Homo sapiens: one gene and its partners. The protein of the gene in region 4 interacts with the protein of the main gene of each other region in a pairwise test. Each region holds a gene or a part of one and is shown on either strand. Other genes may lie near its edges.

The links.
Region 1: the proteins of PAXIP1 (region 4) and PLCD1 interact in a two-hybrid assay, tested with the Homo sapiens proteins (one large-scale study listed by BioGRID).
Region 2: the proteins of PAXIP1 (region 4) and WDR48 interact in a two-hybrid assay, tested with the Homo sapiens proteins (one large-scale study listed by BioGRID).
Region 3: the proteins of PAXIP1 (region 4) and CABYR interact in a two-hybrid assay, tested with the Homo sapiens proteins (one large-scale study listed by BioGRID).
Region 5: the proteins of PAXIP1 (region 4) and PGGHG interact in a two-hybrid assay, tested with the Homo sapiens proteins (one large-scale study listed by BioGRID).
Region 6: the proteins of PAXIP1 (region 4) and PPP2R5C interact in a two-hybrid assay, tested with the Homo sapiens proteins (one large-scale study listed by BioGRID).
Region 7: the proteins of PAXIP1 (region 4) and INTS7 interact in a two-hybrid assay, tested with the Homo sapiens proteins (one large-scale study listed by BioGRID).

Annotation. Positions count from the first base shown.
Region 1 is NC_000003.12:38,009,330-38,012,984, forward strand, and holds part of PLCD1 (1-phosphatidylinositol 4,5-bisphosphate phosphodiesterase delta-1), read right to left. Parts: intron 2,345-3,655; coding exon 2,215-2,344; intron 2,117-2,214; coding exon 1,885-2,116; intron 1,234-1,884; coding exon 1,032-1,233; intron 947-1,031; coding exon 802-946; exon of another isoform or gene 725-801; coding exon 575-724; intron 483-574; coding exon 324-482; intron 103-323; coding exon 1-102. UniProt on the Homo sapiens protein: The production of the second messenger molecules diacylglycerol (DAG) and inositol 1,4,5-trisphosphate (IP3) is mediated by activated phosphatidylinositol-specific phospholipase C enzymes. Essential for trophoblast and placental development.
Region 2 is NC_000003.12:39,093,288-39,097,619, reverse strand, and holds the end of WDR48 (WD repeat-containing protein 48), read right to left. Parts: intron 3,747-4,332; coding exon 3,554-3,746; coding exon of another isoform or gene 3,368-3,553; exon of another isoform or gene 2,973-3,367; coding exon 2,877-2,972; 3' UTR 956-2,876; downstream 1-955. UniProt on the Homo sapiens protein: Regulator of deubiquitinating complexes, which acts as a strong activator of USP1, USP12 and USP46. Enhances the USP1-mediated deubiquitination of FANCD2; USP1 being almost inactive by itself.
Region 3 is NC_000018.10:24,145,325-24,149,656, forward strand, and holds part of CABYR (calcium-binding tyrosine phosphorylation-regulated protein), read left to right. Parts: intron 1-4,332. UniProt on the Homo sapiens protein: May function as a regulator of both motility- and head-associated functions such as capacitation and the acrosome reaction. Isoform 1 binds calcium in vitro. Isoform 2 and isoform 6 probably bind calcium. Isoform 3 and isoform 5 do not bind calcium in vitro.
Region 4 is NC_000007.14:154,992,546-154,996,877, forward strand, and holds part of PAXIP1 (PAX-interacting protein 1), read right to left. Parts: intron 1,227-4,332; exon of another isoform or gene 1,225-1,226; coding exon 1,181-1,224; intron 1-1,180.
Region 5 is NC_000011.10:293,947-297,019, reverse strand, and holds the end of PGGHG (protein-glucosylgalactosylhydroxylysine glucosidase), read right to left. Parts: intron 2,922-3,073; coding exon 2,824-2,921; intron 2,754-2,823; coding exon 2,542-2,753; intron 2,465-2,541; coding exon 2,271-2,464; 3' UTR 913-2,270; downstream 1-912. UniProt on the Homo sapiens protein: Catalyzes the hydrolysis of glucose from the disaccharide unit linked to hydroxylysine residues of collagen and collagen-like proteins.
Region 6 is NC_000014.9:101,907,569-101,911,900, reverse strand, and holds part of PPP2R5C (serine/threonine-protein phosphatase 2A 56 kDa regulatory subunit gamma isoform), read right to left. Parts: intron 2,313-4,332; coding exon 2,211-2,312; intron 1-2,210.
Region 7 is NC_000001.11:212,004,021-212,008,352, forward strand, and holds part of INTS7 (integrator complex subunit 7), read right to left. Parts: intron 3,430-4,332; coding exon 3,230-3,429; intron 2,742-3,229; coding exon 2,619-2,741; intron 1-2,618. UniProt on the Homo sapiens protein: Component of the integrator complex, a multiprotein complex that terminates RNA polymerase II (Pol II) transcription in the promoter-proximal region of genes.

The DNA of each region.
Region 1 (3,655 bases), on a different chromosome or scaffold from region 4:
GGCCTGTCCAGGGGTGCCAGGACTGGAGAAGCCCCCAAAGTGGACACTCTTGCAGTAAATGACCATGTCAGAGAGCTCCTGTGCTAGCCTGAGCTTGTCCTCCTGGGGAACACGGGGAGGCCCGGGTTAGATTCAGTGGTTGGGGTAGGGTAGGCACTGAGAAAGCCAGAAACCCAGGCGCAGAGAGACAGAGGGAGACAGACAGAGAGAGCGGGGCAGAGGGTCTGAGTGGCAGCCACAGAGAACTGAGACAAGGCAGACCTCCCACGGGTGAGGGGATGGGGAAGGCCCGGGCTGCCCCACCCCACAGCTCCCCCTCAAACCTTGGGCTTGTGCTGCACACGGCTCCTCACTGCCTCATCCTCCATCTCAGCAGCCTCGTCTTCGTCTGACACCACAGTGGCCTCAGGGCCACCCTCCCCTCCAGGGGGCAGGAGCCCCCCGAGCTTCTTCCCCTTCAGCAGGATCTTCCCCTTCAGTTGCTAGGTGGGGAGGGGCAACTGGTCAAGACACACCTAGCGCCCCGGCTAGGCTCCCCACCCTCCCCCAGGGATCCCCCATCCCCACCACACACCTCAGGGGAGGGCAGGCTGTTGGTGACCCCATCCAGTGGTCGGTTCAACAGCATGGGGCCCAGGATGGCATGCAGGTGCCGCGCCATCACGCGCTGCTGCTCCAGTGTGCAGTGGTTCTCCAGGGATAGGATGACAGGGTAGGGGGACGCCTGGAGGCCCAAGGGCACATTAGGAGTGGTGGGCCACCCCTAGCATCCCACTCCTCACCTGCCAGGGGCACTCCCACCTTGAAGGCATAGTCCCGGATGGCCCTGAGCACATCGCAGAAGAGGATCTTGGAAGTGAAAGTATAGCCGTGGTAGATGATTGGTTCCTGGTTGGGCCCGTCCCAGCAGTCAAGCTCCAGGCATCGGCAGCCTTTGCACAGTGCCCTGCGGGGAGGGTGGTGGCTAGGACCCTCCAGGTCCTGTCCCGGGTCCCACCCAGACTCCCGACCCAAGGCTCCCTGAGCAGCACCGGATGTAGGCTTCAGTGCTGCTGGGCCCGGCTAGCTGGTCCTCCAGCAGGTAGGTGTTGTGTGAAGAGGACACCAGGTAGTGGCTAAGTGGCTGGCCCATGTCCTGGTAGACACGGCGGTGTGCCAGGCTGAAGGCGCTGCCGTCAGCCGACAGTAAGTACATGAGGAAGCCGTCCTTGGTCATCTGCCGCTGCGCCTTGGCTGGGAGGGAGGAGGCCACTGCCCGTCAGAGCCAGCCTCCAGCAGGCGCTCCTGGCTGCCCACCCATCTGGACAGAGGAGCCCTCTGAACCCGCTTGCCTGCCTGTCCTGAGCCAGTCTTCCAGAGCTCTTGGAATTAGGATAAGTCTGAGGCTCTCGACCAGACTGTGGCTACTCCAGAGTGGGGCCCTGTCTCCTCCTCCTCCCCTGTCTGCACACTCTAAGACCCCTGAGGACAGGGTGTCATCTCCCCGTTCTCTGTACCTCCAGACTGGAGCCCCCTCCAGGGCAGGGACCCATCTTCTCTGCTCTATCACATCTCAAAGCTGGGCCAAGAATGAGTAAAAAAAAAAGAAGCAGGAGTAGCATCTGCTTTTCAGCCATCTCTCTTGTTTCTTGAAGAAGGGGTCCTCAAAGCCCCCTGAAGGAGGTGCCAAGAGGGAAACAGGACCAGAGAAGGGTAGGGATGCCAGAGCCCTGTCTCTCATCTGCCGGCTTTCATAGGACCAGAAAGTGTGGAGCAGGGCCCCGGGGCTGGCTGAGGCAGCCCCTTCCCTCCGGTTCCCTTCTTTCTGGCTGCAGTCTCCCCAGGGGTCTCCCAGCCCAGTGCGGCCCTGCGACTGCAGGTAGCAGGCCCTGGTCAGGCTCTCACCAGTCTCGCTGGGCTCGTAGCGCTCAATGAGGGAGAGGGCCAGCGCAGGCCCTGCCGCCTCCTCCCGCTGCTGGTGCTGCAGGAACGTCACTAACTGATCCACCGACAGAGTCTCCCCTGAGCCCGCGGCCTCGGCGAAGGTGCGGTCGATCTCCACCCGCTGGGTCAGCATCTTGTAGAAGGCCTCAATCTCCTCGTCCTCCAGGGAGTCTGTCTGGGAGTGGTCACACTCCTGCAGAGCCAGGACAGCCGAGTGGGCTCAGAGCAGGCCTTGGGCCGGGGTCAAGGGCCCCATGGACAGGCAGCCCCAGCCCCCACTTCCTGCCTCACCCTGAAGATCTTCCGGGCATAGCTGTCGTCCACCTGGATGTTGAGCTCCTTCAGGAAGTTCTGCAGCTCCTTGAAGCTCATCTTGTTGTCCTTGTTTTTGTCAGCTTTTCGCAAGCAGGAGTGAATCCAGCTGGGCAAGAAGTAAGGAAAGAACCCAGGAACCCTGGAACCTACCAAGGTCCCAGCCAGAGCCATGGATGGCTCCAGCTGAAGCCACCTATAGCCACAGCTCCCTGCAGGCCTGACTTACTACACATCCATGTTTCAGTGGCCTCTTCAGAGGAAAATGTTAAGGGGTCTTTTTCTATTTGCTGGTTTTCAAACCTTTCAAAATTTTTAAAACATTTCTTTTCTTACTACAAAAGGGCCCACTGTAGACAATTTAGAAAATGCAGAAAAGTAAACAATCAAACAAATCTCCCGTAGTCTATCACCTAGGGATAAATACTATCAACATTCCAAAGTATATCCTTCTGGTTTTCCTTTTCTTTTTTTTTTTTTTTTGACAAGATCTCACTCTGTCGCCCAGATTAGAGTGCAGTGGCACAATCACAGCTCATTGCAGCCTAGACCTCTCAGGCTCAAGTGATCCTCCCACTACAGGTGTGCACCGCACCACCACGCCTGGCTTTTTTTTTTTTTTTTGGGTAGAGACAGGGTCTCCCTATGTTGCCCAGGCTAGTCTCAAACTCCTAGGCCCAAGCAATCCTCCTGCTTTGACCTCCCAAAGTGCTGGGATTACAGATATGAGCCATCTGGACTGGTTTTCAACATATAATATATAATAATAAATATCCAACACTAAAGAAATGGATATTCCACCTGCTGAATAGCCTTCAGCACACGAATCTCGTGCTTGGCTGGACCATTCTAAACTTGACTTTTTTCACCTGGCTTTCTGTCATAATTATTCTTTTCCACATCTATACCCATATATATACAATTTGGAAAACATATATATGTTAGAATGAAGTTTTTTTTTTTTTTTTTGGAGACGGAGTCTTGCTCTGTTGCCCAGGCTAGAGTACACTGGCGCGATCTCGGCTCACTGCAACCTCTGCCCTCTGGATTCAAGCAATTCTCCTGCCCTAGCCTCCTGAGGAGCTGGGATTACAGGCGTATGCTACCATGCCCAGCTAATTTTTGTATTTTTAGTTGAGACGGGGTTTCAGCATGTTGGCTATGCTGGTCTTGAACTCCTCACCTCAAGTGATCCACCCGCCTTGGCCTCCCAAAGTGCGGGGATTACACGTGTGAGCCACGGCACCCGGCCTATAATGAAGTTTTAAAGATCTACCTACCTCCTCCAGAAGCTTCTGATATTTGCATTTTCCTCCTAATATTTTTTTCTGCAATTTATTTATTTATTTGGTTTTTTGAGACAGGGTCTCGCTCTGTTGCCCAGGCTTGAGTGCAGTGGCATGATTATGGCCCACTGCAG
Region 2 (4,332 bases), on a different chromosome or scaffold from region 4:
CAGTGGCAACTCCTGTTAGCTCCCAAACTTAAACAGTGATCTCTTCTAAATATACAAGGCATCTACCCAGCCCCAATAGTGAATAAAAGTCACAAATTTAAGTTCAACACCCTAAGCAATTTCTCAAAGCCAGTCTACCTGACTAGGTCTATCCACGCACGGTTCCCAACCCCAAGGGGGAATTAGGGGATTAGATTAAGAGTAGGTAAAGACCCTTTTGTTCTTTCCTGTTGTAGGGGAGGAAGCTGTTCTCCCCACCCCAGGTGCCTTTGGAGGTTAAGGCTAGGTTAGGCCCTGCACTCCACCTGGGGACGGCCCCTCATCACCTGAAGTCCTCTGCTGTGTTGACTGGACCCTCAGTTCCCACACTGCTAATTACTATGAAAGCTGCTCTGGCCTCGTCTTCTAGCTTGTGCCTAGTTGAAAGTCTCACCTTTACAGGATCATTTGTAATGCTGGTGTACATGCAGGGAACTCACAAGCTGTGTCAGGTATGCAGGACAAGGAATGTCTGCTCTGGGGGGCACAGGCCAACTATATGGAGGGAGGGTCCCAAATTAGCAAACCCTTCATTTAAAGCAAACCCTTGTCAAGCCTACCAGAGCAGCTGATACGTGTGCATAACAGTGAGGCATTGTGTCCTGGATCGTCTGGGAGCCCAGTGTCAAGTCTGCTGGAATGCAGGAAGTAGAACAGAATCGCCACAGGACTGTTCTGGGGCCAGCTTCCCTTAACTCTGTAGCCTGGCAGTCTGACCCAAAGTTGCCCTCACCCAAAGGTTCTGGCTCTTCCCTCCCTCACTTTTACTTTCCCTTCCCCCATAAGTTGGAGGATAAAATGGGTATCAATGCTAATATTTCCAGGGAGAACATGAAACCAGAGGTTTCTTTCTTTCTCTGTAATCTGCTATGAAAGAAAATAACAAATGAAAATAAATGTGTACTACACTTTGAAATATTTTAACTAAAGCCTTTATTCTATACAACTGTGAAATACAGATTTTTACCCTTTTGGCATTGCAGACTGTCGAATTTTCTGGAAACTGTATTACGGTTTGACTGGAGGGGAAAGAAATACAATCATGCTGGGGGTCAGATCTATGACAGGAGGGGAATGCAGCCACCCAAGGCTTAGCACACAGGGCAAAATGACCCAGCAAAACCCATTTCTTTGCTCAAAGGCCCCTCGGGCAAACACAACTGAGGGCTGGTAAATAATTTTTTTTTTCTTTGCCATTAATTCACAACTATTGCTAAAAAATGTGCACCAAAAGCACACTGTTGTATCCAACAGATAGAAAGGACTTTTAAAAAAAAAGAAGCTGGTTGCTCTCTGAGGAAGGGAGAAAGACCATTTCAACTTATTAGAAATGTGGCCACGTCTTTGCTCACTTCTTCAAAGTGCAGGTGGCAATGGCCTGTCCAGTTTCCAAAAGAAGCTGACTAGCAGTGAGGGAACCCTGTCTCTGCAGTTGTGCGATCAGAGTATCTTAAATAGTAAGGTATGGCCTTAGGCCTATCAGCTGCCCCCAGCCGAACCTGTGAAGATGTAGAAAAGAAAAAACGTTCCCTGCCTCCCTCCCTAGTCCCTGCTATGGTGGAGGCAGGCCACACACAAGCTAGGGAGGCAACTGGACTGGAATCAACTGCCCTCTGAAGGCACTTGTGCTTCTGGCTTCATACAGGAGGCTTGTCTTACAGTTTTATGGGGGTGGACCACTGATTTACTCTGAATACAAATGACCTTGGGGAGAATCCAAAGTATTTTCTGCCAAAAGTTGAAGTGTTTATCCCCAATAAGTTACACTCTATACAAGATCCAAATGATTCTATGAAAGTGTTAGATTGTTAGAACAGTGAAAAGAAGATCTGGATACAGGTACAACAAAAACCTGCATATAAAACTTTGGAAAAACAAATATGTATACTTCCAGGATATGAATATCAAATTAACTCACTATGATCTCCCTTTATTCTGACACCATAAATTTTAGGTAACATTTGAATGAAACTGAAATTTCATCATGGTCTTAAATTTTGATGGTGTCATGCTGCTCATCCAGAGCAAGAACCTGTGGTCTCAGCTCGCTTTGTGTAAATAAAACTGGACACAGTGGAGGAAGGAGTGAAACTGCTGCACCTCCCTGGGGTTGCCACAAAGCCAGGACATCATGGGAGGTGCAGCATCGCTAGGCATGGGCTGCACAAACTCCGGCCCAACAGTCCAAGTGCTATGATCCAGCACCTGGAATTTCAACAGATCTTCCTACAAGAACACATCTGAGATGCAATATTAACAACAAGCCCAACATTAATCTTTTATTATGAAATGGGCTGGTTCTCAAATTGTGCAACAGCAAATTCCCATTAAAAATAACTGTCTTAAACGGTGAAAACAATTTGATTACTTTATATGACAAACTTGGAAAAAGCCTTCATATCTACTGCATGAATGGAATGTACTGTTTTAGAAAAGCTACAGAGTGTGTGGGCTTAAAGTTGAAACAGAGACAGTTGTGGCCCGACTGAGGTGTCTCTAACAAGTGTTAATGGGTAGATAAGGTCCTTTGAAACAAAAGGAGGAAGCAAAGTCTGCACTGGCCTGTTGTCAGTCTTCTGTACATCTTGAAAGACATAGTCTGCTTGGGGCTCTTCTGCTCTTGCACTCTGCTTCCCTGGGGACAGCTTAATCTACACATGGAGACTGGTTTCTATATTACATCTCGATTAGTCACTTCAATTGAAAGATAATCTCGGTCCATACCAATCAGCCGTTAGAAGTCTTGCTCCCGTTGGGGATCAGTGGGCTTCCTAGGACTACTCTTGGGGCCATAGAGGAAGGTCGTAAATGAATATCCAGGAGCATTAGCCCAGCCTTCACGTGGACTTCTGACGGTAATGGAGGGTGAGGTCTCCACCGCTCTTCCATATGAAGTGTTTCACTGTTCGAAGGTCCATATTTGGATCCAAAACCTGAATAGCCAAAATTAAATTTAAAAATTTCAAAGTCTCTAATATCTAAAACCTTATCATTAACTCAGGGACTCTCATCAGGTGATCCAGCTTGCTCACTCCTCCCCTATGCCTGGTATCCAATTCTTGCTGTCACGGCTTCCATGCATGCGGGAATGAAATTGAGCTTAGTGAGATGTACATCTTTTGTGACTATGCCAGAAACACCAGGCCATCTTTCAGCCATTCCTCTGAGGATACGTTTTGAGTGCATCTTGATTTAAAAAACAGTTCTGCCATTTCTCCGCACACCTTCACTCTAAATCATAAACATGGCACATGCTTTTTGCAAATCAAGAAGACCATGTGTCTTTTTTCTTGTCAGAAAAAAAAGCTACCAGCACATCCACATTTGTCTATGTATCCCTTCTCTGAAAATCTCCCCAGCAGTAAAGAGGAGCTTTAGGGTGGGCTTTAGGTAGGAGAGGCCCAGGGCTCCTTAGAGCCCCTCTAAAAGTAGAAGCCCCCCACCCAAAGGCATGTAACTCTTTATGAGCACCAGCACTGGAAAAATTGGGGCTGTAGTCCTCAAGTCCACTTACCTGGTCCTGGCACAAAAGTTCAATTTTCTCCTCTGCCAACACAGCAATATCTTCTTCTTTTTCCTGTTCTCCTGGTTTTTCATTATTAGAAGAGCTAGTGGTTTGAGACTCATTATCCAAGTTGATAATTTTTTCATAAACATGTTCCATAACTTTTCGGACTTGGAGCATGTCACTAGCAGAGAGTCTATCTCTGTAAAAAAGCAATGGCATATTGTGACATCAGGGAAATCACTAGATATTATTTATTCCATATTATTTTTCTTTGATGCAAACATTTTAAAGATGAAAAATAAACCAATAAATGTTTTTAGTCATTACCTTAATCCATTTTTAGAGCTGCGGAAAGATTTTCTACAGTGTCCTTCTAAGACACAGTTTATGTACAACTAAATGAGATTAATATGTGTTCTTAAAACTTGACATATACAGGCCAGGTGTGGTGGCTCACGCCTATAATCTCAGCACTTTGGGAGGCCAAGGCAGGTGGATCACTTCAGATCAGGAGTTCAAGACCAGCCTGGCTAACCAACATGGTGAAATCCCGTCTCTACTAAAATACAAAAAATTAGCTGGGCATGGTGGTGCACGCCTGTAATTCCAGCTACTCAGGATGCAGAGGCTGCAGTGAGCCAAGATACGCCACTGCACTCTAGCCTGGGCGACAGAGTGAGACTCCATCTCAGAAAAACAAACAAAAACATTTACATATACATACATAGTAGCCTTCTGGGTTTTATTCCCTTGAATACTTTCCCAGAACCTGGGCAAACTAAATA
Region 3 (4,332 bases), on a different chromosome or scaffold from region 4:
CTGTATAAATTATATAAAACGAAGTCCAGCACCTAGATTCTTGGGAGAAAGGACTTCTAGAAATTCAGCCCATATTCACAGAGGCTTTCTTCCTGAGGACACTTTCAAATTCTTGTGCAGGGAAATATAGCCCAAGCAGTGAGTGAAATCTAGGGAGAGGTGACAGAGGAGCAGAATTTGAGTCTTCAGTGTGGCTGGGATGTGAGTGACAGTACCAGAAAGGAGGCATTTTCAGAGAAGGACCTCCAAAAGTTTGCACAAAAATTTCCCTTGGGTTTTTGTCCAACTCCTAAGCTCCTCATGTGTGGAGTAAAGCTTGAGGAGGTTTAGCAGAAAAGAGCTATTGGGAGACTGAAAGCTAAGTCGAGAGATCAGAACCGTTTAGTGTTGGGAGAGGCTTTGCAGGTTGGGCCCAGCCAAAAATAAGAGATTTTTGTGAAACCGTGGCAATTCAGTTGAGACCTCAGAAAGGTCATAAACTATGAATAAAGTGTACTTTGAGGTATACGTAGTGCACTATCATACACTAGGAAGAAAGGTCATACACTCTGAATGTGCTAGGAGTAAGAACAAAGCTGAAGTATGCCCACTTCAACAGAATTTAGAATCAAATCTCAAGAGGATCAAATTGATTTGCCATTAGAACAAAATCAGTACCATTTAGAAGAAAATTAACAATCAGAGCCTTTACAACGTGTCATTTACAGTTTCCAGCATACAGTTAAAAACTACTAGACATTCAAAGAAGCAGGAAGAAGTGACTAATAAAGGCTAAAACAACACACTCACTAGAAACAGACCCATAGAATATCCTGATACTGGAATTACTACATGAGGTGGATAGAAAATAACCATGATTGATATTTTGAAAAGATGGAAAATAGATGAAAAGATGCAGAACTTCAACAGAGTTAGAAACTACAAAATAAGAAACATTTATTCCATAACTGCAAACTATAAAATTATATGGCTTTATTAGAAGACAGAATTAGGAAACTAAAAAACGAGCCAACAGACAACAACCAAATTAAGGCAAAGAGAAAAATAGAAAACAATGTAAGAGATGTATATGGAACATTGTCAAAAGGTCTGTGTCCACCTGTAGTCTCAGCTACTCAGGAGGCTGAGGCACGAGAACCGCTTGAACCTGGGAGGCAGAGGTTTCAGTGACCCAAGATTGCACCACTGCACTAAAGCCTAGGTGACAGAGCAAGACTGTCTAAAAAAAAAAAAGGTCTATGTCATTGCAGTCACAGGAAAAGAGTGGAAAAGTAGTAGTATTTGAAATGGCTGAGAATTTTCCCACTCTGAAAGACAAGTTTACAGGTTCAAGAAGTCTAATGAACCCATGGCAGGATAAATACAAAGAAAATGACACACAGGTACATCACAGCTAAACTGCTGAAAAAGACAAAATCTTGAGAGCAGGCGGAGGGGTAAAAGGGCACTTTACTTTTCAGGGGAACAATAATAAGACAAATAGGTGATTTCTTAATAGAAACCATAGAAGCCAAAAGACAATGGAATGACATAAAGTGACCTAGAATGCCAGCCTAGAATTAATATATACCCAGGGAATATATCCTTTAAAAAACGAATGCAAAATAAAGACATTCTCAGGCAGACAAAAACTGAGAAGAATGCATTGCCTACTCTACAAGAAATGCTTTTAAAGAAGTTTATAAGCAGGGGCATGGTGGTTCATGCCTGCAATCCAAGTGCTTTGGGAGGCTGAGGTGGGAGGATCACTTGAGGCCACGAGTTTGAGACCAGCCTCAGCAACACAGTGAGACCTTGTCTCTACAGAACATTTTTTAAAAATTAGCTGGGCATGGTGGCACACACCTGTAGTCGTGGATATTCAGGAGGCTGAAGCTGTGATCACACCACTGCACTTCAGCCTAGGTGACAGTGCAAAACCATGTCTCAAAAAAAAAAAAAAAAAAAAGCCTATAGGCAAGTGAGGAATACAAGGGAACTTCCTAAATCTAGGAATGGGTACACACACAAAAACTTACAGATGATCCAATTGACCCATTGTACCCAATGGTGAATATTGAATGCCTTCCCCTCAAGATTGGGACCAGGACAAAGATCTCCAATGTTACGATTTCTATTTAGCTTTGTACTGTAGGTTCTAATCAGTGCCATAAGGCAAACAAATTTTTTTAAAAAAGGAAAGGCATATTAAGAAATAAAACTATTCACAGATGACATGACTATGATGTAGGAAATCGAAAATAATCCACTTCTTTTTAATCAGCTTTATTCTATAGAGGAGAGGGTATATGGGACACAGCCCAGATGTTTATGGGCAGAAGGTTTAAAAAAGTACAGATACATTATCTAGTAGCTGTAAATCTTAAGATAATGAATTCAACAAGTACCCAGAGAGAAAATGGGTATTATGGATGTCATAGAATAAAAAACAGATATGGTATCTAAAGAGCAGCATTTAACACAATCCCCCTCTGTCATGTTTCTTTACGACTTCTAATTTATGCCTCATATCAGTTAGGAAAGCTTTCAGCTGCAAGTAACAGCAAATCAATTAAGAGTAACTTTAAGAAAACAACATATCTGAAAAGGTGTTCATTCTGCTCCTAATATAATTTAATAATAAGTATCACATATCTAGGCACTCTGCTGTGTCATTCTTAGGATGTTTTACATGTCCCCTCATGCTACTGCTCCAGGTGTTATGCCTGTGTTTACATCAGGAAGGAGGAGAAAGTGGTGGCAGTGGTGACATTTGTTCCTTTGATTAAGAAAGGAACACTTTTGCAAGTTTTCCAGCAGATTTCCGCTTCTGTCCCACAGGCCAAAGGAGGCTGATACAATTTATGGTAAGGGAGATCAGAATTGTCCCATGCATTGCAGGACATCTAGCATCCCTGATCCTGCCTCCTAAAATACTAATGCCTCCCAGGTATTGAAATAAATAAAAATGTCCCCTCTACATCTACGAATACTCTCAGTGGAAGGGGGATACTACTACCCCTTGAGAACCAGTGTGCCATTAGTGGTTTATCACCTGGGGCTGGGTACATTGCTGCCACTAATCTAGCTAAGATTATCTTAGCGAAGAATAAGGGAGGGAATGTCTGCTATTCCACCCACCCTGCTTTAATTCTTTGCCCTTAAGTGAAGTTGGGAGAGATGAGGTTTGGTAAAAATGTGGGGAGGGAGGATGTGTTGGGAGTGATGGTGTGTCTGGAATTGGTGGGTTCTTGGTCTCACTGACTTTAAGAATGAAGCCGCGGACCCTCACGGTGAGTTACAGCTCCTAAGGTGGCACGTCTGGAGTTTGCTCCTTCTGACGTTCGGATGTGTTCGGAGTTTCTTCCTTCTGGTGGGTTCGTGGTCTCGCTGGCTCAGGAGTGAAGCTGCAGACCTTCATGGTGAGTGTTACAGCTCTTAAGGCAGCACGTCTGGAGTTGTTTGTTCCTCCCGGTGGGCTCGTGGTCTTGCTGGCTTCAGGAGTGAAGCTGCAGACCTTCGAGGTGAGTGTTACAGCTCATAAAAGCAGTGTGGACCCAAAGAGTGAGCAGTGGCAAAATTTATTGCAAAGAGGAAAAACAAAGCTTCCACAGTGTGGAAGGGGACTTGAGCGGGTTGCCACTGCTGGCTCGAACAGCCTGCTTTTATTGTCTTATCTGGCCCCACCCACATCCTGCTGATTGGTAGAGCGGAGTAGTCTGTTTTGACAGGGTGCTGATTGGTGCGTTTACAATCCCTGAGCTAGACATAAAGGTTCTCCATGTCCCCACCAGATTAGATAGATACAGAGTGTGGACACAAAGGTTCTCCAAGGCCCCACCAGAGTAGCTAGATACAGAGTGTCGATTGGTGCATTCACAAACCCTGAGCTAGACACAGGGTGCTGATTGGTGCGTTTACAAACCTTGAGCTAGATACAGAGTGCCGATTGGTGTATTTACAATCCCTGAGCTAGACATAAAGGTTCTCTACGGCCCCACCAGAGTATCTAGATACAGAGTGTTGATTGGTGCATTCACAGACCCTGAGCTAGACACAGGGTGCTGATTGGTGTTTACAAACCTTGAGCTAGATAGAGAGTGCCGATTGGTGTACTTACAATCCCTGGGCTAGACATAAAGGTTCTCCACGTCCCCACCAGACTCAGGAGTCCAGCTGGCTTCACCCAGTGGATCCTGCACTGGGGACTGCAGGTGGAGCTGCCTGCCAGTCCTGGTGCCGTGCGCCTGCACTCCTCAGCCCTTGGGTGGTCGATGGGACTGGGTGCTGTGGAGCAGGGGGCGGTGCTCATCGGGGAGGCTCGGGCCGCACAGGAGTCCACGGAGTGGGTGG
Region 4 (4,332 bases):
GATCGTGCCACTGGACTCCAGCCTGGGCGACAGAGCAAGACTCTGTCTCAAAAAAAAAAAAAAGATCTCAGCTTCTTAAGGAGTCTTGTACAGAGAATAAATGACCTGGAACAACAAAATCAGCCTCTTAGCTCTATTCCCAGTCTTTTTGACTTCTTATAAAAGTAATAAATAACGACAAAACAAAAACAGGAACTAATTTCCTTCAACTCTTTAGGCTATGTACAAGAAAATATTAGAACTTCTGAGTTGGAGTTGCTAAAGTTCTACACATCCTCCAAGAAGAACTGCTTGTAGAGGAATGTTTTCCCTATTTCTCTATAAATATTTCATGATAAGTTTCCTTCCATCTGCATTGATTCAATGGGTAATAAGTGCTTTCAAGAGAACTGCCTGGCATAGCTGCAAAATAAAATAGAGCACATGACATAATCTCTTGCCAGGTCTAAAATTTTAGCAACTGTATGGTATCAGGTACTTGCAAAAGAAATGATTTCCACAAGCAAGTTACACTTGAAGTAACAGTCCCATGAAGAATTATCCTTTTAGGATGAAAAGGGAGCCACCAGGCCTAGAAGAGTAAACAGGAGGCCTGTAGAACGCCTCATTTCTGACTCCTGACACAGTGCCAGGGCAAGGGCACATCTATGAATGCTCCATGAACGAACAATGCAAGCAAGGAAGCTCCCTGAGGGCAGAAATGGTCTTCTTCACCCCTCTATTTTCAGTACTCAACCCACAGCACAGGTGCACTGAATTAATAATCGTTCTACCCAATGCAATTAAAAGGATTAACAATGCATGTTATAAATTTTATTCTCATGTTCTCTTCCCCAACTTACTCTTCAAACAATTCATGATTTGATTCACATAGACTTAGAATTTTAGAAATATCCCTCATCTAGCTAGCACCACAAAAGCTGAAGAGAACCGGAGCTCCTGCCTCCAGTTCCCGGCCTAGAGTTACTTGTCACAGCTGAGCCCCCTTTTAACATGAGTAATAACAAGGATCAGGTACATAAAATTTGAAACAGGATGGAAAATAGTAGGAATATAAGATGTAGACAAAACAATCTGTCCTAACGAATGAATCCACTTTTCACTCCATTAACTATCATTTCTTTCAGTCTTAAACCCAGAGTTACCCTTTCCCTCCTCCCCCACTCAAAAAAAAGGATACGGCAGAAGAGTTCCACACTGAACGGACAGAATCACCCAAGAAGGCTGAAAAAGAAAAGATTAAATCAAAAAGTATTCTCAATTTACAAGTGGCATATTATTTTACTAGTGTTGTTCTTAGAAATTAAAAGTCTCTGTTACAACCTATTTTAAAACATCCAGATTACAAGTATGAATATTCAAATAGAAATATTATAGTCAAAGATTAGTTACTAATACCCAAGATGAAAAATCCAATTACAGAATGAAGCACTACCATATTTTTTTAAAATTATGTATAAACATTTAAGTTCCAGGTTTACACACTTATTACTGCTGACCCCCACATTTAGGACAGGGGAACTGCCACCCATCCTGCCCCACCACCGCCGACACCTCATCCAGGGCATAGTCAGCCTCTCATACGCTCCCTTCTTGAATCCCAAATTCAGTCAAGTCTAAATTCATGAGGTGTTTGTTTGTTTTAGTGAAGTCAAGCAGATACAATGTTTGTAAGCCTGAAAATATTTTTATAAATTCTAAAAACTGAGATTAATTATAAAACAGATTAATTACTACCTTTCTGGGTAATTTATATTTTTGAAAAATTATCTTGTTTCTATGTTTAATTTTTATAATTATACAAATCATTCTCCTGATAGCTCTACTTCAGAAAATTACTATCAAAATGTAGTAATGCCCCCATTACTACATTCTGGAAGGCAGCTGACTTCCAGAAACTTCAGCCAACTGAAACAGACATATATACTCACTACCCACCCATCAATTCATTCATCAAATATTTATTGAGAATCTATTTTATGCAGAGATGGTGCAAGGCGCTGGGGATGTAACAATGAAAACGAGAAACGCAGTCTTTGCTCTCCTGCAAGTCATATTCCAAGCTAATGATCTTCAAGCTATTTTTGTCATGTACACCTTAAATAAATTTCAGACAATGAAATGCCCCCCTTATCATTTTTTAGATGACATCTAAAATTTTTCAGCATAACTCTAAATAAGTATATTTTCTGTGAGAAGAGGAATATTAAACATTTTATAAAATAAAATAAAGATTGGCAGCTGTGCCTGGGATAATTACTTCATTATGATTTGACATTTACCAAAGGTTTTAACTAAGTTACTGGATTAGTTATCTGAAATCTGAAAGAAGGCACTTAATTTTTCGATCTATGTGCCTTATCCAACATATCTTCACATTTTTTGATAGTCCTAGAAAAATTCCAGTTAAATTTAAAAAAATGGGCCAGCATCAGGAATCGGTATTGGCCTTGACACTTCTGAATTCAGAACACCTTCATGTAGACCAAGCTCTCCTTTCAACAGCAACACCCAGAAACCCCTCTCTCCTCATGATGCCATGACTGAGCACTAAGGGAACAGTCCCTAAAACCAGTCTTTCTAATTGTCCTTTTGTCTGCTGTCCACGAGAATTTTCAGAGCCTGGGGCAATGCACTACAAGATTAGGATGGGTGAAGGTCTGATTCTTCCTGTGTAAAGTGGGAGGGGCCACTGTGACCACAGGTGTGTTCTCAGGCAGCTTTAGGAAGGGCCAGTCTGGAAATGTTATCTATCACCTTACAACCATCCACACAGCATACACGCTGAATATCTCCCCCCAGGGAGCTTGGGTAGGGTATCCCAGTTTAAAGACTGCTGGCTATCATAAAGTCCCATCCAAGCACAGTAGAATCACTGAGGCCCTACTTCAGATAAGTTTAGATAAAATAATGCAAAATTAGGATGTAGGCCACAGTACAAAGCAGAAATGGAGAACTACAAAAGCAAAGTGATAAGGAACTATTTATCCTAAAGGCAAAGAACAATATATAAAAATAAGCTGGCTGATCGCGATGGCTCATGCCTGTAATCTCAGCACTTTGGGAGGCCAAGGCGGGCGGATCACTTGAGGTGACAGGTTCGAGACCAGCCTGGCCAACATGGTGAAACCCCGTCTCTACTAAAAACACAAAAGTTAGCCGGGCGTGGTGGCACACGCCTGTAGTCCCAGCTACTAGGGAGGCTGAGAGAGGAGAATCGCTTGAACCCTGAGGCAGAGGGTGCAGTGAGTCGAGATCACACCATTGCACTCCAGCCTGGGAGATTCTGTCTGAAAAAAAATTAAATAAAATAAGCCCACTACAAGTCAGCAAAATTAACATTTCCAATGATGCCCAAAGGCCACTGAGAAAAATATCTCAATTTAAAAAATAATTTTAAAAGTTTTGGTGCCCAAAGAAGCAAGTTTTAAACATTTATAAGATTCAAATATGTAAATGATAGATAAACTGTCACTGTGTATAAAGATGCCTTATTTTTAAAATGCATTGTCAAACTTCCTATCAAGGTAAAGGCCAAGGGATATGCCTCTAGGGAACCAGGTCTCAGCCTTCAGTCATATGAATTCAGACTCAACTATTAGCAGCAGGATCCAAAATAAGACAGGCCCATAAGGTTCAAACTAAGAATATCAGGATCTACTTGAAATATCTTAGAGTGAAGGCAAACTGTTGAGTCAGCTCCGAAGTACTCTACCACCTTGTAATGTAACACAATAGTCCCTGGACAATACAGGTGCTGTCAAAAATTACAAGCAGGCTGGAATGCTACTGGGTACAGATGAAATATGTCTGTCACTCATTTTAAAATACTATAGCCAGAGGGGGAAAAAGTTGGGTTTGAATACAGTAAACTACCTTGGCAAAATGGTGATAATCCTAGATGCTAACTGCTAATTGTATAAGTAATGGGTATTTCTACTTAGCCTTACATACTGACTTTCCCAGGAATATGAATACTGTGTAAAATGAAGGAAGACTGCTTTGTTTAGCTCAGGAATTGATCACCATTCTGAAATGTCACCTCACAGCGGCGACCCCACTTGTGGGGTATGATATCAATCTGTAATTGCAGCAGCTACCGGCAGTGACTCTACATATAGCAGCAGCCATGCCCAAGTGTTTACACATTGAAATATATATTTATTATTTACTTGCCTTTTATTTCGCCTTCACATTTCAGTTTGGGCAATTTATATATACATATTTTAAAGGTTGGCTTACGTATCGATTCATTTCTGGATAATAAGGGGAGTGCTACAAAGTACTTATTACAAAAAGGTGGTTTGGGGTCAGGCAGGTTTAAGAACTACT
Region 5 (3,073 bases), on a different chromosome or scaffold from region 4:
GCCAGCCCTGAGCCTCAGGATTGGCCTGAGAAGGGATCAAACTGTGTCGGGTGCAGAGACTGGGAGGGGGTCAGCCCATGTGTGGCTGGATACGTGTCCCCAGAAAAGAGACGGTCTGCCAGTCCCCAGGCTTACTGAGGGGCAGGGACGACCTGGTCCATTCCCGGTGCTGTGGGTGAGCCACCTTGGGGGAACGGTCACCAGCACCTCCCTGCCTCAGGCTCAGGCTCCTGGGCAGGCGATGAACCCTGACCAGCCCTGCCGGCACACGTGCACTGACCATCACGACCCCCCCAAAAGGGTCACCTCAGGATGTGCAGAGGTGGCCCCACACGCGTGTGGCACGCACGTGCAGCAGGCTTCAGGCCATATCTCTCCTGCGGGCGCAAGGCTACCGACCACCCTGACTTGACACCTGTGCCCACATCACCCTGGCTCTGGGGCTGCAAAGATGAACTCCTGCTGGGGCAACCGTGGCCGGGAGAAGGGGCCCATGCTTCCCTCGGGGAACCTGCCTCTGCCTCTCGCTGCCCAGCGACAGCGTCGGATGGGACCCAGCTCTGCAGCTGAGGGAGCCTGTAGGGGCCGGGGGAGCCACGTGGAGGCGTCAGGCTGCATTCTGCGAGACTCCTGCCCGGCACTGGACTGCATGCCGGGCTGCCCCCTGACCCACAGCCCCTCTCCACTGTGGCCACGAGCCCCTGTGAGACTCCTGCCCGGCACTGGACTGCACGCCAGGCTGCCCCTGACCCACAGCCCCTCTCCACTGTGGTCATGAGCCCCTGCAAGACTCCTGCCCGGCACTGGACTGCACACTGGGCTGCCCTGACCCACGGCCCCTCTCCACTGTGGCCATGAGCCCCAGCAAGCAAGCTGCCATAAAACACGCAGTGTCCACAGGTCTCAGCCTTCTGCACCCTACACGGTTCCTGTCAGGGGAGCCGACCTCTGAGTGCTGGTCTCGGCCGCAGGTGTGCTGCAGCACATGCCTCCCCCACACGCTGCTTCTGGCAGCCGCTGAGGGTGGCAGAGACAGCAGACAGGCCTTGGGAGACCCAGGCATCCTGGCCCCCAGACCCTAGAGCTGCCTGAAAGATGTTTCCACAGGCGTCCTTGCCTCCTTCCCTCCCTCCCTGAGTCTCCGTCCAAACCTCTGCTGTCCTCCGAGGACAGGGTGCAGCGGCAACACCAGAGCAGGAGGGAGATGCAGATGCGAGGGGAGCCATGTTGCTGGGCGCGAGCCTTAAAGTTGCTGTGCTTCCCGACTCAAGTGAAAGGAGAAATGGGACCCGGGGCACGGCCCTCACTTCAGAAGGAAGCACAGCGGCTCCTCAGAGGAATAATGCTCTCCCCAGCACCAAAGCTTTAATTCCTCAGGCTGACAGCGGTGCAGGGGGCCTGGTCCTCATCAGGGTTTCAGCAGCAGATGCCATCACATCTTGTTCTTGGGAAACTGCTGACGACCGAACCCTGGGGCTGAGCTCCCAAGACAAAGGCTGGGCAGGGCCAGGGCCTTGAACCCATGCACACCTGGCTCCAGTCCCTCTGGCTGGTCCGTGGAGAGCGCTGGGGTCTCGCCCTCAAATCCCTCTCCTGTTCTCTGGTGACTTCCCACTTCCCACTCCCCCACCTCTGTCCTCACAAGCGGCGTGGCTGAGGGAAGAGAGCCATCCCACCCCACGCTGTAGCAGAGGCTGCCCAACCTGATTAAAGCTGCCCAGAGTCAAGAGGAGCCTGGGATTGAGACTAAGTCCCCTCAACTGCATGACATGAAAAGTTCCTTTTTGGCAAAGCTGCACCTGAGAGTCCTGAGGAATTCTGAAGGGGCCGAGTCCCCGTCCTTCGTGCCCCTTATCCCTGCTGTCCACGCTGAGGCCTGAGCCTGCCTCTCTGCCTTCTCAGCAGAGCGGCCGGCCGCTGTGACCACTGCTCTCAGGAGAGTGGGGGATGAGAGGCCAGAGGTGATGCAGGCTCAGACCCCGGCTTCAGGAGCTCGGGGTGGGGTCGTGGGACGGTGCGCGATAGCATCAGTCCACAGGGGCAGGCAGAGGCGGTGTGGAGATGCCACGGGGAAGCCACCTGCCCACGGGGGTCCACGGGAGTCCAGGCTACAGGCAGAAAGCCTTGAACTCAGGCCAAGCAGCATGGACCTTCCCTGAGAGCCTGGCTGCAGGTGAGGGATGGCAGGCTAGGAGGGTGCCCAGGAGGGGTGGGTGCAGACGTGGCCAGAGGGAAGGCCCAAGAGACGTCTCTGAAGCCACCGTTCCTGATTATTCAGAGGCAGGGTCCACAGTGAGTGACTCGGTGGGGCTGGAGGAACCCAGGGTGACCCAGAGGGGGCTCTGGAGCGGGTCCCTAACATCTGAAAAAGTCCTCCCAGGGAACTCGGAGCTGGAACTTCCAGGCAGCTTCGGGGGTGACATTTGTATCCGGCCAGCCGAGCGGGGAAAGGAGACCTTGTGTCCTGCAGGGAGAGAGGCAGCCTGGGGGTGAGGGGCAGCCTGGGGTCGCAGGCACCTGGGCTGTTGGGGGCTGTTCTACCTGGCAACAGGGAGAGCCGGGACTGGGATGGCCACAGCTCAGCCTCCAGGTGAGGAGCCCAGGGCCCTGCTCGAGCTGTGACCTCCACGGTCACGGAGTCCTCGGAAAAAGAGAAGTTGAGCTTGTTCCCCTGGTAGAAGATGCCGGAGACGCTCACTCTGGAGATCCCCGACAGACACACAGGGTCAAAGGTCACACCCGCTCGGGTGACCCTGTGGGAGGAGAGGCTTGTGAGGTGGCAGGTGGGGGCATGGGCTGCCCTCTGCCAGCCTCTGCACTTACCTGAACCCCGTGCACCCGAAGACCACCGCCTGCAGGAAGCCCCCCATGCCTGTCAGGAAGTTCACAGCGCCTGACCCGTCTGCATTCTCCGTCCACACCTGCAGGGGCAAGGGCAGCTGACACCAGGACCCCCAGGTCACCGTCCTCTCTGGGCTGCTGTCCCAAGATCCGGCAGGAAGCTCCAGGGGTGCACCCTGCTGTGCCTGCTCTGAGGCTGGGCTCCACTCCCACCACAAGGGGCCCAGTGGGA
Region 6 (4,332 bases), on a different chromosome or scaffold from region 4:
AGTTTTTTTTTTTTTTTGAGACAGGGCCTCACTCTGTCGCCCAGACTGGAGTGCAGTAGCAGGATCTTGGCTCACTGCAACCTCCACCTCCCGAGCTCAAGCAATTCTCCTGCCTCAACCTCCCGAGTAGCTGGGATTACAGGTGCGTGCTACTACCGCCCGGCTAATTTTCGTACTTTTAGTAGAGATGGGGTTTCACAATATTGGCCAGGCTGGTCTCGAACTCCTGACCTCAAATGATCCACCAGCCATAACCTCCCAAAGTGCTGGGATTACAGGTGTGAGCCACTGCGCCCGGCCAGGATCCAAGTTTTTCAACCCAGAAAATGTACTACACAACCTTTAAGGTCCTGTTGGGAAAGCTGTGGGATTCCACGAGAGGAGGATCTGCCATCAGAAGGCCCTGCTGCTTGCATGCTTCCTACCTGCGAACTGCACTGAGAGCTGAGATGAGAACAGACCATGCAGCTGGCAGCTCTAGAGGAATGGCTGGTCTGTCTCCCCGGCCCTTTCCTGACTGACTTGTCATCTCTCATGCTCTATAGTTCACTTAGGTGTATTTTGTGTTCTTTTATTTCCCCACACTACCCAGAATATAAACCCCAAAAGGGCAAGGATTTTTTTTTTGAGACGGAGTCTCGCTCTGTCGCCCAGGCTGGAGTGCAGTGGCGTGATCTTGGCTCACTGCAAGCTCCGCCTCCAGGTTCACGCCATCCTCCTGCCTCAGCCCGAGTAGCTGGGACTACAGGCACCCGCCACCACACCCGGCTGATTTTTTTTTGTATTTTTTTTTTTTTTGAGACGGAGTCTCTCTCTGTCTCCCAGGCTGGAGTGCAGTGGTGTGAGCTCAGCTCACTGCAAGCTCCGCCTCCCAGGTTCACACCATTCTCCTGCCTCAGACTCTGAGTAGCTGGGACCACAGGCGCCTGCCACCACGCCCGGCTAATTTTTTGTATTTTCAGTAGAGACGGGGTTTCACTGTGTTCGCCAGGCTTGTCTCGAACTCCTGACCTCAGGTGATCTGCCTGCTTTGGCCTCCCAAAGTGCTGGGATTACAGGCATGAGCCACCATGCCCGGCCTTTTTTTTTGTATTTTTAGTAGAGACGGGGTTTCATTGTGTTAGCCAGGATGGTCTCGATCTCCTGACCTCGTGATCTGCCTGCATCGGCCTCCCAAAGCGCTGGGATTACAGGCATGAGCCACCACGCCTGGCCCTTTTTTGGTATTTTTTAGTAGAGATGGGGTTTCACCGTGTTAGCCAGCATGGTCTCAATCTCCTGACCTTGTGATCCACCCGCCTTGGCCTCCCAAAGTGCTGGGATTACAGGCGTGAGCCACCGCACCCGGCCCAGGGGCAAGGATTTTTGTGGGTTTTATTCATTGCTATATTGCCAGAATCTAAAACAGGGCCTGGTGTATAAGGTAAATATTCACATATTTGTCTAAGGAATGACTAAATGGCAGTTGTTTCATATATATACACACACACACACACACATAGATACACACATATGTATACAGTGTATTTTGAATTACATTCGTGCAAAGCTTATCTACCTTAGCCAGTTTTAAGTGACAAGCAAAAAATAAAATCTGCCAATAGTCCATACTCAACTTGGAAGAAGTGACCTCCAACAACTATTTAATCACATTATTACTTGCACAGCCTAGGGACGAAGTACTTTGTCACTTAGATCATCCCTGGACACATGTGGGCTCAAAGGCACGAGGGCAGGACCCTGATTTTGCAAAGGACAGACTAGATTCCAGAGAACACCCACATCGCTGAGTTCATTAAATCAGAATAAAGCTACATTGAAATGAAGATTCTTGCTCTCTGGGATAAACCTTATAGGATATAATTCAAATCCCTGCCTTATAAACATGAAAATGGACTACACATTATAGCCTTTAAGCCCATTATAGCCCAAGAAAAGAAAAAATTCTGAATGTTAAATTCTTGCTTACATAAGCACTTTTTGCAAAGATGATTAATCTGGCAATACAAGGGGGGAGAATAGCTACCTTTAAACACCTGTTCTTTCAAAATACGTTATTATAACACAGTTTTAATTTGCTTTCCAAGTATGAAAGGCTTGGTTTTGCTTTCGAGTGAAGAATACCGTTTTAGGACAAAACAGTGGAAGAGGTTTACTTAGGATTAAGAAAAAAATCCTGGAAACAGTAACTTGTGAAAGGAACAACTCACTTTAGTTTCTCTGCTTTGAACTGTTGTGTACAGTCATCAAATAGCTTTTGGTTCATCTCCATGAAGAGCTTCAGGGCGTTGTATATCAAGCCATGTATTGTCCTATAAAGAAAACCGCACGGTGAGCCTGGGAGCACGCATTCCTGCTGAGCCCTCGCCTCTCCACTCTCAGGCTGCTCCATATTCCAACAGTCCCACATCGCACAGGATCCCTAAGGTCTAAAATGCAAGGCCTGCTCATTCCGCGTTACTTGTTTTCTGACAGCCACACATCCCGAGACTTTCTTCACAGTGGCTCTCACATAGCCACAGAGGCCACTCCACTCACTGTCTCCAGCTGACAGTAGCCAAAAACGACCTTGCTCAGAAACTGAATTAAAAACATTGAAACTTGAACAAATATAGTTAAGACAAAATTATAAAGAGGACAATAATGGCAATACTTGATTTCCTATAAATGTCAGTTTCTTTTCATCTTATTCCCTGAGGACAGAAAAATTAATTTTAATAATGGCAACACAGAGCTTTGAAAGAGAAAATAAAATGAGCATAAAACAGCTTAATCAATGCTTAGCTCTCAGGCTCTGACACGCATGGAGAGGGAAAGAGGCCAAATTGTTCCAGCTGAGCCTCTGGGTGACTCTAGTCCCAGCTGCCATGGGACTGCAGCCCTGTAAGAGCCCCGATCCCCCAGCAGACACCAGCGAAAGCCTGCGCAGCAGGACCTGCTCGACCCGCAGGACTGTGAGCAACAGGTGCCAGTAGCTAAAAACAAATAAATCCCAAAAAACGTAACCCTCAAATCATAATTCCTTCTTAATCCACTTTGTAATAAAACCCAAGTTGTACTTAGAAAACACTTAAAAGAACATTTTTTTCTTTGCAATGGGCGGGGATTGGAAGTCAGTTATGAATTGTGCTGACTTACATACTAAACTAAATTACACACAAGAAACATGGCGACACTCCAGGGGCTTTGTTGTCATTGTTGCGATTAAAAAAAAAAAAATCAATGCAAGCCAGGCGCGGTGGCTCACACCTGTAGTCCCGGCACCGTGGGAGGCTGAGGCGGGTGGGTCACTTCAGGTCAGGAGTTCAAGACCAGCCTGGCCAACATGGTGAAACCCCATCTCTACTACAAATGCAAAAATTAGCCAGGAGTGGTGGCTCATGTCTGTAGTCCCAGCTACTTGGGAGGCTGAGGTGGGAGAATCACTTGAACCTGGGAGGTGGAGGCTGCAGTGAGCCAGGATGGTGCCACTGCACTCCAGTCTGGGTGACAGAGCAAGACTCCATCTCAAAAATAAATAAATAAATAAAATAAATCAATGCTACAAAGAACAGGTTGTTGAGGGTGGATGTGCTGTATTAACAACTACAACCACCACGCTATTGCCATGAGGGTCTTGGCTGCTGCCTCCACTGCTATCAGCATGGCTGCTGGCCCTACAACCACTAAGTGACAGCAAATGCTTACTTGGTGCCTATCATAAGCCAGGTACTTTACGCATATTAACTTTATCTTAATCCTCACAACCAAGTGAAGATTGTTGCAAGGCAAAGCACTTTACTTTCTCAGTTTTTCCAAAGAGAAACTGTGGCTAAGAAAGACCTGGTGAGAGCTAACTTCCCCGGGTTCAGACAGCTGCTCAGGAGGAAGGCAGGAATGTGAACCAAAGTCATCCTCACTCTGATCTGCCTGCCCTTCTCTGTTGAATTTCTGGGCGGCAACCCTCAGAAGACTTGACGCGAGTGGACTGGCTGGACGCTCGCTCGGGGGTCTGGCTCAGAGCTCCAGGGCTAACACCTGTCTGGCTGCTGCCCTGCAGAATTCTGGGAAGGAGGCAGTGCCACCTGCAGCCTCGAGCGGACAAGGAGAGAGGGTGCATGGGAGAGGGCTGGTCCGCCGGCAGCAGGGTGACTGTGCAGCACAGCCAGAGGGGTGCCCAATAGACACTGCGAGTTAGGAGACCGCACCGGGCCAGAGTGCCGCTCACCAGCTTTGGGACCGCAGACTGGGCTGCGAATGCCCTCCAAGTCTCACCTTCCTCACCCATAAACTAAGGGAGGAGGGCTGGATAGCATAACCTGCTCTTCTTTAAGTTCTGAGTTATAATTACAA
Region 7 (4,332 bases), on a different chromosome or scaffold from region 4:
AATGACAAAGACTGCCAGGCTGGATTAAAAATAATCCAATTAGTCCAGGCACGGTGGCTCACACCTGTAATCTCAGCACTTTCGGAGGCTGAGGCAGGTGGATTGCTTGAGGTCAAGAGTTCAGGACCAGCCTGGGCAACATGATGACGATTCTCTACTAAAAATACAAAAATTAGCTGGGTGTGGTGGCACATGCCTGTAGTCCCAGCTGCTTGGGAAGTTGAGGTGGGAGGATGGCTTGAACCCTGGAGGCAGAGGTTGCAGTAAGCCAAGACTGCACCACTGCACTCCAGCCTGGGTGACAGAGCAAAATTCTGTCTCAAAAAAACCCAAAAAACCTCCAATTAAATGCTGTTTATAAGAAACATGTGAAACATAAAGATATATAAAGATTGAAACTAAAAAGATGGTAAACAACCTATCATGTCAACATATGTAAAAGAAAACTAAAGTAGTGATATTAATATCAGACGAAATAGACTAGGGCAAGAGACACATTTAAGGGACCTAAAATAAGTGGAAAGATATAACATGTTCATGCACTGGAAGACAATATTATAAAGTTACCAATTTCTTACAAACTAATCTTTATATTCAGTGTAATCCCAATCAAACTGTTAAATTTGACAAGCTGATTCTGAAATTTATATAGAATTGTCAAGGACTAACAAAGTATGAGTATTCCAAATATATAAAAAATAACTATGAATCAACAGAAAAATAGGCAAGAGACCTGAATAGCCATGTCATAAGAGAAAATCCAAATGGTCAATAAACATATTAAAAAGGTGTTCAATTTCTTTAATAATCAAGGAGCTACACATAAAAAGTACAACTTCTAAACTGGTAAAAAACGTAAGTCTGATAATTCTATGTGTTGGTACGGATGTGATTAATGGACGCCCTCATACACAGCAGGAATGTAAACTGGTTCATTGACTTTGGAAAACAGTTTGACATCATCTGTTAAAACTGAAGATACGCATTTTCTGTAAGTCAGAAATTTCATTCCCAGGTATACACTCTAAAGAAATTTGCGTGTGTGAACTGGGAGACAAACAGAAGAATGTTCTGCACTGTTTGCAATAGGCCCATGCGGAAATAACCCATCGAGAGCAAATAAACTGTGATACATTCATACAATGGGATAGTACATTACAATTAAAGGGGAAAGACATGGATGAGTCTCACCAGTGTAATGCTGAGCAAAAGAAACAAAAACAAAGCTAAACAGTATTCTTTAGGAAGACATGTGAAGAAGGTAAAAGAAGAGCAAAGAAATTATTATCATGAAAGTCAAAATGGTGGTTTGCTTTTGGAAGGTGTAAAGTTTCAACCAGGAAGGACCACGCAAGGGAAGGAGGCAGGGTTCTGTGATCCTGTAATGTTCTATTTCTAGCTGGATGGTAGTTGCATGGGTTTTCACTTAAAAGTATTTAAAATATTTATACATTTTACATACTTTTCTCACTTAAAGGTATTTAAACTATTTATATATTTTACATACTTTTCTGTATGTATGATCTATCTCACAATAAGAAAAAAATGAGAAGGAATAATACTGTGCTTCTCACTCATCTTTCTAAATAACTGGGTTTGGTTCTTTGTACAAATTCTCTAAAATGACTAAAGTGGCTGGGCACATTCTCTTCTTGGAAAGATAGCATTATTTAGTAGAAAAAGCAATAAGACTAGGGATCAGAGGACAGAAGCTCTCTTAATTAAATTCTTAATTTACTTCTCTTAAGATGCTCTCTTAAGCATATTAAGTCTCTCTGAACCCTAACTGCTTATCTATTAAATGCAGATTTAACAACTGCCCTTATCTTGGGATATCTGTGACTATCAAATCATAATATAGTAAATTAAAAGATGTTTAGAAAACAACAAACAAACAAACAGAAAAACAAACACAGCAGTTTAGTTTTAATAATCTGAAATTCAAAGATTTTTAATCCACTGGAGTCATGATGAAGCTGAGAGATAAAAACTACCGTTCCATTTTAAATAGCATTATTTGCAAAATGGTGTTATTTCTATCGGTAATGGGTAAACAAACAGGGTTCTATTTTGAGAAAAAAATAAACATAAAATATTAATTTAACCTAACAGATGGTAAGAGATGGTGTCAAAGATGCACATTAAAAGTCTAAAGAGTGAGATCTGCTCTTCTGTTTACAAAAGAAGACTTAGGAATGTCTTCAGCTCTCCAGGAAGAGAGAAATATATTTCCCAAGTTGCCCATCCAGCCCTACCTCCATTACAGATAACATTCAGCCCCTAAATTTTTCTCCCCAAATTGACTGAAAAATACAAGAATAAAAAAACCAAACCAATGTAATTGGGCTTCTCAATTAGCCTTAGTGCCACTATGGGAGAATGAACAAGCAACTGAGTGGCAAGTTTCACTGACTAAAACAAACATTGAAGTATAGAAGTTTTATGTATTTATTGTGCCACTTATAAAATAACTGCCACAAACATCAACAATGCTTTTAGAAGTTTTTCATATTCAACCACTTAGAAGATGACAAAGACAATATAAAAATGCAAAACATTTTACTATATTATAATGTTATATTATTTTTTCTATATAAAATGTTACAAGTTCTACATACCTGAATATTCTCCCTACTCCAAGTATGTGGTGTTTTATTAGCAAGTAATTTCAGATCTTGAATAGCAAGTCTCTTTACTGCCTTCCTGGGATCATTCTTCAAATACTGCAACAGAAGCTGAATCTATAAAGGAAATAAGTCACTCCATAAACAATACTGTAACTGAAATGATCATTAGAAATGCAGTGTAGTTTAGTGAAACTTATAAAGGGACAGGACTCACTTCAAATCAGAGCCCTGTCACTCACTAGCTATGTGCCCACATTTGGGCCTCTTTCTCCATGTTTGTAAAATACTACCATTTAACTTTAAAGTTTTAGCACAGGCCCTGGCATTTTACAGATACTCAATCCTTTCTTTTTTTTTTTTTATACGGCCAACTTCACACCCAGCCATGTACTCCATAACATCTCATTTTCCTCAAGGGCTCCCAACAATCAGTACTGTGAACAGAGAGAATAAAAAAGCAAGCAAAAGCAAATTAATCTGACCTTTATTAGAGAAAAGAACCTTAATGTCCTCAAGACTTGTGGGCCACTTTCTTATTTCTAATCATATATTTAATATGTAAGTTTACCAAAGATAGGCAGTTTAAAGAAAATTGAAATTACCTGCTTAGGTGTATCAACCAAAGATGACGCTGCAAGCAGAGTGAAAGTGTGCAAAGACACAATCACCATTTTGGTGGACGGATAGGATGTGACCAGCTGTTGTAAAAGCTGACGAGCACTGGAAGCCAAGATTGCATCATGGTGCATGTGCTGTAGAATGGGTATCAATTTTAGCTTCAAGTCTACTGGTGTCGCTAAACCTAGACACAAAAATAATTCTCAAGGTATTTGTGATCACCATCCTTAATAATATTCCAGATTTAAAAGCTGTGACTCATTTAGCAAAATTGCACTTGAAAAACACAGTATACTAATATATTTATAACATTAAAGATTATACTAGAACCAATTGATAAATTCAATATTTTTTCCTAAGTATTTATCTTGACATTAACTTTTCAATGATTATAAAACTACATGCTGATAATAAAAACTGCCTTTAAAAAGCACAGTAGAAAGCAAAGTCATATTTGCTGCCTATTTCCTCTCATTGTCATAGTAAAAAAATTATACATACACATATACATATATATACACAAACACACACACTTGATGGCTACAGTCTGATTATACTTATGATTTTAATTATTTCCTTCAACAACTAAATCATAATCAGGATGTGAATAAACTGTGTGTAGAATGGTTTCGAAGTCCTCTGAACTTTGTGTAGTAAATGCCTTTCTTTATTGCATACACGACTGGATCCATGAAGACTAACCCTAATCCACGTTTTCCTGTCAACAGTGGAGCGAAACCAACAAATCTTTTCTCTATGGCATGGCTTTGTGGTCATGGTGAACACAAATTTCTCAGTCGTAATGTACCACATACATGCCACAAGCTAATTATACTCTGCGTATTGCTGGCTTTTCCATGGTGAAATAATTGTGGGTATGAACGTAAGACAGCATTTCAACGTCCAACAGTTGCCTACGTCAATAAACTCCCTTGCTAGATGGCCTCTACTTGGGTTTGCCAGAGGGAAAAGAATGAGATCAGAGTATTCCCTGCTTTCCTCTCTGCAGGGTCACATCATGCTCATGTTATTACTTTGTTCCTTAAGGTTCTGAATGCACTTGACACTGCTGACCATTCTATCTTTG